Linked DNA regions of Homo sapiens. The protein of the gene in region 2 purifies or fractionates together with the protein of the main gene of each other region. This does not show direct contact. Each region holds a gene or a part of one and is shown on either strand. Other genes may lie near its edges.

Evidence for each region.
Region 1: the proteins of DPYSL5 (region 2) and LONRF2 purify together in Homo sapiens (affinity purification with mass spectrometry; 2 studies listed by BioGRID and IntAct, with this or other methods). This does not show direct contact.

Annotation. Positions count from the first base shown.
Region 1 is NC_000002.12:100,312,501-100,319,542, forward strand, and holds part of LONRF2 (LON peptidase N-terminal domain and RING finger protein 2), read right to left. Parts: intron 1-7,042.
Region 2 is NC_000002.12:26,851,112-26,858,153, reverse strand, and holds part of DPYSL5 (dihydropyrimidinase-related protein 5), read right to left. Parts: intron 1-7,042. UniProt on the Homo sapiens protein: Involved in the negative regulation of dendrite outgrowth.

The DNA of each region.
Region 1 (7,042 bases), about 73 Mb from region 2:
GTTTCTAGTGTTAAAAATACATTTCATTTACATTTATTTTTAATCATTCTTTTCTAATGAATACATTTAAGTCTCTACTCCTCACATTCTAAAGGGTGCTTTAACTGAACTCCAAATTTCATAAAATTCACTTCCCATCTACACTTGATCTTAGCCAAAAGGCCAAGAAACAATCACTTCTCATCTCGACACTGAATGAATCACTGTTTTCTTTGTTGACGTCCACCATTTGGTGATACATTTGTGAGGACAGCACTTCACAATTTAGTCTTTTAAAACACATAAAATAAATGCTTACACATTTTCTAAGGATTAAACCTTAGGCTCAACAAAACTAAAGGAGTTCTCCAAGGATCCCTCAAAACTAAGTGGAAGAGGAAGTGCAAATTATTAAAAGTCTTTGTGTAGAGAAAACATATGGAAGAAAAATGTACATATGTACTTTCCAAAGAATTGATGCAACATTTCAGTAGGTTCACCAATTAACCCCTCTATGGGGAAAAGTCATAAGAGGGCAGCCTAAGACCCAGGCTTTGAGAGGAAAAGAAGAGATGTCTACCACAACTGTGTTTAGGGTCGACCAAAGGCTGTTTTCCAACAGCAACCCAGAGCCACTGTTGTACTAGGAGCTAGGGTTACTGCTATAAAATCTATCAAATGTGTGCAGTGGTGAGAAATGGAGGATTACATGTTATTTTACACAAGTTAAATGAGCCAGGCGTGGTGGCTCACGCCTGTAATCCCAACACTTTGGGAGGCCGAGGTGGGCGGATCACTTGAGGTCAGAAGTTTGAGACCAGCCTGGCCAATATGGCGAGACCCCATCTCTACTAAAAGTAAAAAAATTAGTCAGGTGTGGTGGAACATGCCTGTAATTCCAGCTACTTGGGAGGCTGAGGCATGAGAATTGCTTGAACCTGGGAGGTGGAGGTTGCAGTGAGCCAAGACTGTCCCACTGCACTCTAGTCTGGGTGACAGAGTGAGACCCAGTTTCAAATAAATAAATAAACAAACAAATGGACACATAAAGCAATAAAAACTGGGTAGTGTTCTCTATGAAAAGAAAGAATAAGTGGCAATACTCCTCAAAGCCTATTTATTCAAATTGATGGAAGACTGTAATTACAGAGTCAAGTCCACAAATCTTAGGTGTATATCTCAACCTTTGCATGTGTACCCGTGCCATCATCATGTAGTTCATTCCCAGGGCCTAAGAAGGTTCCCTTGTGCACTATCCCACTCAGTGTGCCCCTCCTAAAGGTAACCACCATTCTCACCTCTGTCACTTTGGATTACTTTATCCTGTTTTCTAACTTCTATAAATGGATATTTATAAATGGAATGTACTTTTTTGTATCTGACTTCTCACTAAATTATCATTCTGTGAGATTCATTCTTATTGTTATATGTCTCAGTAATATTTTTAAATTAATATTTTAAAAAATTTAAAAATTGCTGTGTAATATTACACTGTATGACTTGATTTATTTACTCATTCTACTAGTGATGAACAATTGAACTGTTCCCCAAATGTTTCTGGCATATATAAATAAAGCTGCAATGAACATTCCTGTACACATATTTTGATGGACATAAGCATTCATTTTTATCTAGTATATACTCAAAAGTAGAAATGCCACATCAGAGGTTGTACGAGTTTAGCTCTAGCAGGTGCTAACAAACACATTTCTTAAGTTGTTGTACAAACTTATGCTTCCATCAGTAATTTAAGAGTTCCAATTGCTGCAAATAAAAACTAAGTATTGCCAGTTCTTTTCATTTCAGCTACTCTGGTGGGGATGTACTAACTTACTTTCATTTTAATTTGCATTTGAGCACTAATTATGTTGTGCAGTCTTTTAGATGTTAATTGCTCACTTTGAGATCTAGTTTTTAACTCTTTGCCTATTACGTAGTTTCAGCTAAAGTTGTTTCTATCAATGGTGTTAAGTGAGTACTTACTGTGTTTAGACAGATTGGCTTTTTCTTTTTGAATCATAGGCATTATTTATTCTGCATTAGAGGTCTCAGTAAGATATTTGTATACTCATCCCCTTCTCACTTTTTTGGGGGCCTCTGAGGAACAGAAGTTTTATTGTTATGCTTTTTGTGTCTTATTTAAGAAACAACTGCCTACCCCAAGTCCTTGAAAACAGTCTCCTATGACTCCTAGATACTTAATTGTAATTTTGTTATATGATGTGAGATAGGTATTCAGGTTTATTTTTTTCCATATAAAAAAGCAACTGACTCTTTTTTCCCCATTGAATTTTTCCCCATTGAATTCCATTAGCATCTTTCAGAAAATCAAGAGACTGTATATGTGAGAGTCAGTTTCAATGTGTCTATTTTTAAGCCAATACAATGCTGTCCTAATTACTGCAGCATTATAGTAAGTATTGGAATCTGCCAGTGTAAATCCTCCAGCTTTGTTGTTTTTCTTCACTGTTGCCTTGGCCATTCATCAATTTCCACCAAAAACACTGGCTAGGATTTTCTCTGAGATTGCACTGAATTTACCATTCAATCAGCAGAGAACTGACGTCTTGCCAATACTGAGTTTTGCAATCCATGAAAAAAAATGATATATCCATCCATTTAAGTCTGCTTTAATTTCTCTCAGAAATGTTTCATGTTTTCAGTGTATTGAAATGAAATTTTCAGTGTAGAGGTATTAAACATCTTTCAGCTATTTCAGGATTTATTCCAAGGAATTTGTTTACATAAATTGTTTAAAGTTTTTTTCCTATTTGTTTTTTCTAAGTATATAGTTATGTTTGATAACCTCTATATTGACCTTGTAGTCAGCAATCTGGATAAATCATTTATAATTTCTAATAGTTCCTACATTCTTCTGGAGTTTCTATGTATGCCAGGTCATCTACAAATAATGACAGTTTTTTGTTTTATCTTTTATTTTTCCAATCTTAATACATAGCTATCTAGAATCTCCAGTGAAATGCTGAGTGGCAGTGAGAATAAAACAGTGTTACCTTCTCATTCAATGGGAAAACATTATTTCATCATTAATTATGATAGCTGCTATCTCATTTTTGTAGACTTTTAAAAAATTAAGAAAGTTCCTTTTTATTCGTAGTTTCCTGAGAGATGCATCATATCATTTTTCTTTTTTCTGTAAAGATGGTGAATTACATTGCTTGATTTTCCAGGATTAAACAAAACTTAACCTGCTTGCTACTGATGTGATATTCTTTAAGGGTATCAATGGATTCAGTTTGCTAATATTTTATTTAGGATTTTTGCAACTATATTCGTAAGAAACATTGGGCTGTATTTTTCCTGTCTTGTTACTGATTTTGGCTCCTTTATTTCCTTCTTTGTACTCTCTTTGGATTCTATTTGCTTTTCTTTTCCTAGCATCTTGAAATGGAAGCCTAAAGATCACTGACTATCAGCTGTTCTTTGGTAGTATGGGCATTTAAAACAGTAAGTTTCCCTCTAAGCACTGTTGCATTGCATCCCACAGTGTTTGATATCTGTATTTTCATTATCATTCAGGCAAAATAGAAAATTTTCTGGCCGGGTGCGGTGGCTCACACCTGTAATCCCAGCACTTTGGGAGGCAGAGGCGGGCAGATCACGAGGTCAGAGATCGAGAGCATCCTGGCTAACACAGTGAAACCCTGTCTCTACTAAAAATACAAAAAATTAGCCAGGCGTTGTGGCAGGTGCCTGTAGTCCCAGCTACTGGGGAGGCTGAGGCAGGAGAATGATGTGAACCTGGGAGGCAGAGCTTGCAGCGTGCTGAGATCGTGCCACTGCACTCCAGCCTGGGCAACAGAGCGAGACTCCATCTCAAAAAAAAAAAAAAAAAAAAGAAAGAAAATTTTCTAATAATTATTAGAAATTCTAATAATTCTAATAATTATTAGATAATTAGAAAATTTTCTACTTTATGTTGTGATTCATTTTACCCATCATTATATAAAAATATATTGCTTAATTTCAAAATATCTGAAGATATTCTATTTATGTGCTATTTAATTTTAGTTTAAGTCCACAGTGTTTAAAGAACATATACAGTCTGGTTTCAATCTTTTAATATTTATTACGACTTCTTTCATGGCCTAATCCAGGAGTTGGCAAACACAACCACAGGCCAACTCCAACGCTCTGCCTATGGTCATGGGAGCCTAAATGGCTATGTTTTTGCAGTAGTTGTATGTAGTGACACATATTAATTAAATCTAAGTGCTGAAGTATGTTGTATCTATATCCTTACTTATTTTGCAATCCTTACTTTATCAGTTACTAAAAGTTTTGTTCAACATCTCCAATTATTTCCCCTTTTGCTTTTGTCTCCTTTTGTTCTCTCCATATGTGTGTGTGTACACTTGTTGTTAGGTGCATAAAAATTTAGGCATATTATTACACATTTTTTTTCTGTTGAACTGGCCCATTCATCATAAATGTCTTTATTTCTTCTGATATTCCTTGCCTTAAAGAATACTTTATCTGATAGTCACTTTGCCATATCAGGCTTTTGTTTGTCAGTCTTTGTTGCCATCCTACTAATTTTAACCTTTTTTTGTGTTCTTACACCTAAAGTTTACCTCGTGTGTAAACAGCATGTAGCTATACTTCACTTAATCCAATCTGCCAACATTTAGTTTTTAAATGGGAAATTTAGGTCTTCACATTTAATGTAAATTAAATCCCCATTTTTCTATTTCTTTTCTAGTTGTCCCACTTATTCTCTCCTTCTCTATTCTTCCCTCCCATTTTCTTTTGGATTAATCCAGTATTACTTTACTATTCCACTATAGCTTTTTTTTAATTTTACCTTCCTATTGGTGGTTACCCAAGACAACAGAATATGCAAACCTGATTTAGCAGTCTACTTTAAATTGGTACTGTTACTACCTCCAAAACAGTGTACAAACCATACAACAATTTAACTGTATTTACCCATTCTGGCTTTGTCCTGTTGCCATATCTTTCACTTTTATGTATGTTACAAATACCACAAGACATTATTATTGTTATTTGAAATAGTCAATATTGTCTCATATTGTTACACCTTCTAGCACTCTTTACTCTGTGCATTAGTTTCACGCTTCCATATGGATACGTTTCCTTTAGCCTGAAGACTTTCCCTCAGTATATCATGAAATGCAATTCTGATGGTAATAAAATCCTTTAGCTTGAGTTATTTCTTTGGTTTAAAGCACCTTGATTTTGTGAAAAATATTTTCAGGTAAAGAATTCCAGCTAGGTTTTTTTTTTCTTTCAGCACTTTAAAGACATTATTCCATTAGCTTCTAGCTTCAATAATTTTGTCTAAAAGTCAACTGTCAGTCTTCTATGATTCCTTCGAAGGAAATATGTCCTGTCTTCTCTAAATGCATTTAAATTCTCTTTATCTTTGATTTTCAGGAACTTGACTATAATGTACTTGGATGGGTTTTGTGTGTATGTTTGTGTGTGCACTTGTGTCCACCCTGTTGGGCTTAGTGAACTTTTTGATTCAGTGATTTAAAGTTTCTCATCAGATTTGGAAAATTCTCAATTACTTTTTTCTTTAAATATTTCTCTTGCCCTTCCCCTCTCTCTTCTTCCAGGATTCCAATTTCATCGATGTTGGAACTTTTGTCTGTGTCTCACATAACTCCCATGCTCTCTTTTAGTCTTCTTCTGTGATTCAGTTTGGATATTTTCTGTTAACTTGCTTCTGAGTTTTCTCATTCAGATTTCTGATGTGTGCCATCTGGTTTGTAACAAATCTAATTCTCAACTTCAGACATTGTATTTTGAATTTCCAGGATACCCACTTGGTTCTTTTTTATGGACAATTGTCTTCTGAATGCTTTATATTTTCATACATTTATTTACCTCTTTCAACATACGTACTAGTTATTTTAAATTCCACTCATAACTTATCGGCCAAAAGTAGTCACATGGCTCCACCTAATCACAAGTGGAGCGGGAAGTGCAATCCTACCTTGCCTGGGGAAGGTATAGAGATAGACCAGCACTAATGACTACCACACTTCGCTAAGGTCACATAATAAATAAGCATCAGACATCAGGTGTGGTGGCTCATGTCTATAATCCCAGCACTTTGGGAGGCTGAGGCGGGCAGATCACTTGACTACAGGAGTTGGAGATCAGCCCGGACAACATAGTGAAACACGTCTCTACTAAACACACACACAAAAAAAATACGAGGCATGGTGGTGCATGCCTGTAATCCCAGTTACCTGAGAGGCTGAGGCACGAGAATCACCCTTGAACCCAGGAGGCAGAGGTTGCAGTGACCGATATCATGTCACTGCAGTCCAGCCTGGGTGACAGAGCGAGACCTTGTCTCAAAAAAAAAAAAAGAAAAGGCCAGGCATGGTGGCTTACACCTGATATCCCAGCACTTTGGGAGGCTGAGGCGGGCGGATCACAAGGTCAGGAGATTGAGACCATCCTGGCCAACATGGTGAAACCCTGTCTCTACTAAAAATACAAAAATTAGCTGGGCATGGTAGTGCGTGCCTGTAATCCCAGCTACTTGGGAGGCTGAGGCAGGAGAATTGCTTGAACCAGGGAGTCGGAGGTTGTAGAGCCACGCCACTACACTTCAGCCTGGTGACAGAGCAAGACTCCGTCTTAAAAAAAAAAAAAAAAGTCAGAGCTTGGATCTAAACACAGGTATTTCTGATTCCAAACATCTGTGAACTTTTTTTTTAACTATATCAAAACCTCTTTAAAAGGGCTAATTTATTTTGAAATTAAATGTTTTCATAAAATTTTAAGCTAATCTTTGAATAGAAAAATGAATACATTCTATATAAGTTCTCATATGAATTTACTGAAATAGCCTATTTTAAAAACGTTTAAATTAGGTCTAATATATATACAGAAAAGCTAAAAATATAAGTATATAGTGCAATGAACTATTGCAAAGTGAACACACTTGTGTATCCATCCCCTAAATCATGAAACAGAACATCACCACTACCCCACAGATCCCTCTCATACTTCCTCACAATCACTATTCCCTTTTCATCCCCCCAAGGTAACCATTGTCCTT
Region 2 (7,042 bases):
TTCACTTGTTTGTATAAAGACAAATACCAAACATGGCAGACCACATGCTAAAAAAAATCTTTCTCAGGAACAATTTGGGCTGTGAATGGATCACATAAGGCAAAAACCAGCCAAGTTAGGAGTTCATGACTGCCTTGGCAGGCTCCTCTGGCTGCTCGTGTTTCATTACCACCATCCTATAATTATGCCTCAACCACTGTCCTTTATGCACACTGGCCATGCCCATCACTGCCATCTCTCCTGGGCCACATGACGATACTGGCCATGAACATGAGATGCGACAGGCTGAAGGTTAGTGCTCATATTGTTGTGCCTTATCTTTACTTTTTTCATTAGTTGCAGAGGTTCTTTCCATTATAATCCAACTGTAAAAATCACATCTATTTTAAGTTTTTCCAGAAACCTACAGAAAATAAGATACATGTCATAATTCTATTTCTAAATTTAAAAAAGGCAGTGTCCTGTCTGGCCATTATAGGAAATCTGAAATTATTATAAGAAATAAGAATTCTGGCCATTATTAGAAATCAATATCCTGTCTGGCCAAATAAGAAATCTGAACTCTGTGATTCCAAGCTGACACTTTTGTGGGATTTTTTTTCTTTTTTTTTTTTGAGACAGAATCTTGTTCTGTCGCCCAGGCTGGAGGGCAGTGGAGCAATCTCGGCTCACTGCAAACTCCACCTCCCGGGTTCAAGCGATTCTCCTGCCTCAGCTTCCCAAGTAGCTGGAACTACTGGTGTGCACCACCACGCCCAGCTAAGTTTTGTGTTTTTTAGTAGAGACGGGGTTTCGCTATATGTTGGCCAGGCTGGTCTCGAACTCCTGACCTCAGGTGATCTGTCCACCTTGTGCCCGAAAAGTGCTGGGATTACAGGCGTGAGCCACCACGCCTGGCTGAGACTTTTTTTAAGCCACAGAAATCACACAATTCAAAATTGCTATTTGACCCAATACAAGAAATATAAATTAGTTAACAATAAAAAGCACTTGTTAATCTTGCCCAAGGCTGTCAGGACATCTCTGGAATGATATCTGGACCAATGTTGCATTTATAATATGATTTTCATCTTTTCCTCAAGAAACATGAGTTAAGAAAACTGCAGTAGCAAGACTAAGGTAGACGTACACCGCTTAGTTTAAAAGTGTTCATTTCAGCCAATCAATTGGTTATTTGTGGACAATTCTTGAAAACTAGTATAATATATATTATATATACATATATAATATTTATTACATATATTATATATGTATATATAATATATATAATTTTTTTAACTGATAGATTACTGTGGAGTCAGAGATATAGCTTAAAGTTCTACTTTTTGCTGAAGAATAAGAGTTGGAAGTCAACCTCTGATCCAGCCATAATATTGTGCCAGTCTTTAGGATTTTGGTTTAAACAGCTGCATTGTATACTTCAGAGGATTTTTTTTTTAATTTCTCCATTAATCTTAGCATTTGGCACAATTTACTAAAACAGAACATGTGTGTATCCCTGACCCAGTAATTTCACTCCTAGGTATATATATACCCAACAGAAACACCTACTAGAATGTTCACAGCAGCACTGTCCATGAAAGCCCCAAACCGGAAACTATCCAAATACCATTAGCAACATAACTGACACATTTGGTACATACATACAATGGGATGCTATATAGCAATGAAAAAAATAAGCAAATTAGATACAACAGTAAGAGAAATCTCGCAAATATAACCTTGAGCACAAGAAGCCCCTGGTGAGAGAATATCCACTACATGATTCCATTTGTAAAAATTCAAAAATAGGCAAAGCTGATTGATCTGTGTATAAGCAGTCAGGATATGGAGGAAGAATACTAAGTAACTAGAGACTCTCCTTGAGTACTGATAATTCTGTTTCTTTCTTTTTTTCCCTTTTTTAAATAATAAGATTTTGAATCAGGCAGGCTTCTGAGCCATAGTAGGCTCAGAGACTCCAATTTTCTGTTTCTTAATTTGGTGCAGATTACATGGGTATGTCTCATCAAGCTATACACTTATGGTTTGTACACTTCTCAGTTTATCTGTTATACTTTACTAGTTTTTTTTAAAATGCACCCTCAGCCACTGTACCCCCCAAAAGTGACTGTTTCATGTATGTGTATTGCCACTTGACAATACGGCAAACTTAAAACAATTTAAGTAACTTCATTAAGGTTGAAAGTGTTTCACGTATGCTGGAAACAAGAGCAAAAAGATATTAAATGAAAAAATTGGGGGTTGTTTTTGAATTTTATAACAGAACAAACATATCAATCTACAAGGTCAGAAATCCGAAGTAAAAAATTAGAAAGGAGGCGGCTTCTGTATCAATAGTGGATCTTGCTCTGCAGAAGGACAAAGGGAGGGACAGGACCAGACAAAAGAAGGGAGAATAAAGACCCAAGGCGTGAGAATTTCGAGTCAGCCCATGGCGGATTTGAAATCAACAAAGGGGCAGCTTAGAAATGGACACTGGAGTGACACAAAGATGGTGTGATTGAGTACCGGGCACTACTAACATGTGGGAGACACACATTCACAGGGAGTCCAGGCAGCAACAGACCTCAACCCCTTTGCCAAACCAATGAAAGTGGACAGATGTTAGGTAGTAGGGAGTGACACGTGCACAATTCAGAATGCAGAAGTTCTCCTTTCTTTCCAAAAGAATCTAGTCATTCACAAAAACTCAATCTTACTTGGGCCAGATGATTTTTTTTTTGAGATGGAGTCTGGCTCTGTCACCCAGGCTGGAGTGCAGTGCCGCGATCTGGGCTCACTGCAGCCTCTGCCTCCTGGGTTCAAGCGATTCTTCTACCTCAGCCTCCTGAGTAGCTGGGACTACAGGCACCTGCCACCACGCCCAGCTAAATTTTTGTATTTTTAGTAGAGACGGGGTTTCACCATATTGACCAGGCTGGTCTCGAACTCCTGACTTTATGACCCACCCGCCTCAGGCTCCCAAAGTGCTGGGATTTCAGGCATGAGCCACCGCGCCCAGCATGGGCCAGATGATTTCTAATTTAAAAGGGAGGCCAGGCGCAGTGGCTCACGCCTGTGATCCCAGCACTTTGGGAAGCTGAGGCGGGCGGATCACCTGAGGCCAAGAGTTCCAGACCAGCCTGGCCAACATGGTGAAACCCCGTCTCTACTAAAAATACAAAAATTAGCTGGGTGTGGTGGTGCATGCCTGTAATTCCAGCTACTCGGGAAGCTGAGGCAGGAGAATTGCTTGAACCGGGAGGCAGAGGTTGCAGTGAGCAGAGATCGCACCACTGAACTCCAGCATGGGCGACAGAGTAAGACTCCATCTCAAAAAGAAAGGAAAAGAAAAAGAAAAAGAAAAAGAAAAAAAATTTAAATGGGGAGCCAGAGGTCTCAGTAGCTGGAAAATCCTGTAAAATATCACCTAAAACCATTCAGTCATTCTTTCAATATTATCTGTTGAATGGTTACTCTGAGCAATATTCTGGGCTAGAAGCCACCTGGACGAGAAAAGAGGTCCAAATTCTATTTTAAACAAGGTAAGGTGCAGCATTTTGTAATGGGATAGCCTATTGCTAAATTATTTAGTTAACTGTGAATCTCACACCCAACTCATAAGGTTCTCAGCTTGAGGTACTGTTTAAAGGCATGGATCCTTTTATGGTTAGGGTTTCTTTCTTTTTTTGTTGTTGTGGTTTTTTGTTTTTTTGAAACAGTCTTACTCTGTCACCCAGGCTACAGTGCAATGGTGTGATCTTGGCTCACTGCAACCTCCACCTTCCCAGTTCAAGTGATTCTTGTGCTTCAGCCTCCTGAGTAGCTGGGGCTACAGGTATATGCCACCATGCCTGGCTAATTTTTGTATTTTTAGTAGAGACAGGGTTTCGCCATATTGACCAGGCTGGTCTCGAACTCCTGACCTCAAGTGATCTTCCTGCCTCGACCTCCCAAAATGCTGGGATTACAGGTGTGAGCTACTGTGCCTGGCCTAGTTAGTTCTTTGTGTCAACTTTGCTAGGCTATAGTACCATTATCCAATAAAAGATTCATCTAAATGTTGCTGTGAAGGTATTTTGTAGATGTGGTTAACATCTATAATCAGTTGACTTTATTTTTTTTTTAATTTTTGAGAGAGTCTTGCTCTGTTGCTCAGGCTGAAGTGCAGTGGTGTAATCACAGCTCACTGCAGCCTTGACCTCCAAGGCCCAAGCAATCCTCTGACATCACCCTCTCAAGTAGCTGGGACCACAGGCATGTGCCACCCCACCTGGCTAATTTTTTTTAACTTTTGTAGAGATGGAGTTTCCCTATGTTTCCCAGGCTGGGTGGTTGACTTTAAGGAAAGGAGATTTTTCCTTGATAATGTGGGTGGGCCTCATATGATTAGTTAAAAGGCCTTAAGAGAAAAACTGAGTTTTCCCTGAGAAAGAAGAAATTCTAAGTAAAGAGTGCACCATGAGCTCCTGCCTAGTTTCCGGTCTGCCAGCCTTCCCTACAGATATGGGACTTGCCAGCCTCTCCAATTGCATAAACCAATCCTATTGGTTTTGTTTTTCTGGAGAACTGATTTTCTGTTTTTCTGGAGAACTCCAGTTATCCTGGAGAACTGATACAGATGGTAATCAAACCCCTTGAGTTCAAGGCCTGGCTCTGCCATGTCCCCATCTGGGTGTCCTTTTTACTTTTGTTGCCTCATTTGTAAAATGAGGATAATAACAGTAACCTAATGCATAGTAATCAGAACCACCCCTGGCACAGAGTGCTTTGAAAGTGTTTGTGAAATAAATAACTGTGGTTCCAAGTTGCACAAAATTCTGTATTTCTTAGCTGGAAAACCTGAGTTTTCTTTATTCCCAATAATTTGCCATCAACCAAACATGATGACTCTTCCCCACACCAAGAATTACATAGCCTTGGGACAACAGCTCCTCACCAGCCACGCCAGCCTAACCCCACTCAAAGGAATGATGCAGCAAAGCTGAGGTCACAGCACTTCTGGAACACTCTTAATTCTCCAAGTTCTCAGCTGCTAAAAACAGCTGAGCTTAAAGAGGCTGCCAGGAAACAGACTCCACAGAGAGCTATTCCTACTATTTGCAAGGGTGGGAGTTTTAGAAAGGAGTCCTAATCATTCCTTGTGTTCCCACTGTTAATCCCTACAGCAACTTGCCATGGCCCCTTGGGATGAAAGATTAAATGGGGAATCAAAGTGTTGTTTTTGTGGACACACATTTTAGAGGGAGAATATGATGCTGCTGCTGATGGTGATGATAACTTTTACTGAGCACTTACAAGATGCCAGATGCTGCTCTCAGTGCTAACCATTAACACATGTAAGCCTCAGAACAACCCCAGATGTAGATACTGTTAAGTTGGTGCAGAAGTCACGGCAGTTTTTGTCATTAAAAGTAATGGCAAAAACAGCAATTACTTCTGCACCAACCTAATACAACCATCCTCATTGCACAGATAAACAGAAAGTGGCCAAGGTGAAATCTGAACCCAGGCTTTCTGGCTCTCCCTCCTGTACACGCTACCGCTGAGCCTGGATTGTGACGAGGGAGGAGGGAGGCGAGGGAACAAGTACAGAACAGGGCTGTGATTGATGGGAGTGCTTGGCAAGCTCGGGTTCAATCAATGGTTAAATCAGCTTATTTTAAATGAAACAAGTTTCAAAGACTGAAGTAGAACAAATCATACACCATGTTCCTCCCTGAATTTCTTTTGTTCAAGTGTATAATTTGTGCCCACTTTTATACATAAATACCAAAGCTCACAAAAGATTCATGTTATGGTATTTCAACCTTTCATCTTCACATAAAAAAAAGCAAGGCAAAGCGATTTTGAAATTATTTCTCATTTATGCACCAGCAGTGCAATGAAATCAAACACCTGCTTATTGGAAAAATGATAAAACACATTTATTCTTATTTGCTCCCATATTACACCAAGTTTTCCCTACAGGACTTCATGTTGACAAAGATATCTTGTTCTACAGGATTCCTGTGAATTAAGTCTTAGAAGACTTTTCTGGAATATGTTTTTATACCTCAGAAAACAAAAAAGATACACAAGATCAGATTCTATCAGAAACTGGTAAATTTTCACACCAGGAAGATAGACTGGGTCTCAGATACTCTTGTCCAACTTCTCTGGCTCTCAATATTTTTCTATGCCCCAAGAAAATGATCTGAACACACAATTCACATTTTTTTTTTTGAGATAGAGTCTCACTCTGTTGCCCAGGCTGGAGTGCAGTGGCACGATCTCAGCTCACTGCAACCTCGGCCTCCCAGGTTCAAGTGATTCTCCACCTCAGCCTCCTCCCAAGTAGCTGGGACTACAGGTGTGCGCCACCACGTCAGGCTAATTTTTTTGTATTTTTAGTAGAGATGGAGTTTCACCATGTTGGCCAGGCTGGTCTCGAACTCCTGACCTCAAGTGATCCTCCTGTCTCAGCCTCCCAAAGTGTTGGGATTACAGGCGTGATCCACTGTGCCTGGCCACAATTTACTTTTACCCCAGAGACCTGCCTATAGTCATGCTGTCCTTTGGCTTATAGTCCCGTGGAGCTAATGCAGGATCATACAGAATCCTGGGTCAGAGAAGCTATTAAGGGGAAATTCTCAGATAGCTATGGCAGGAGAAGAGACGTGGAAGTGCCACAAATGAAGTTTACGCCAAGTCCTGAGACCTGATTTTGGCCAACTGTGTAAACTTGCCTTGCTGTGGAACTCTTTCCAGAGATAGAAGCATTAAGAATAATGCAACAACCCTGCTAATGTTTGCACCTAGAGAGGTTACGCTGACAACAGCCAGGCCTTCACGTCAGGCTGGTCATACCGGCATTCCTTGTCTATGGATTCCCTGCCATGAGGAACAGACTGCAATGGATGTTCACAGAGTGCTTTAAGAAGATTACATCCTTTTAAAAATCCATAAAATTATTACAAAAAAGAAGCCAACAAAACACTCCTTCCTGAAATTGTTCCCTTTGGGTAATAATATGAAAACATGTTTCCCATTGGAGCTCTCTTACAAGAAAAAACCTTCA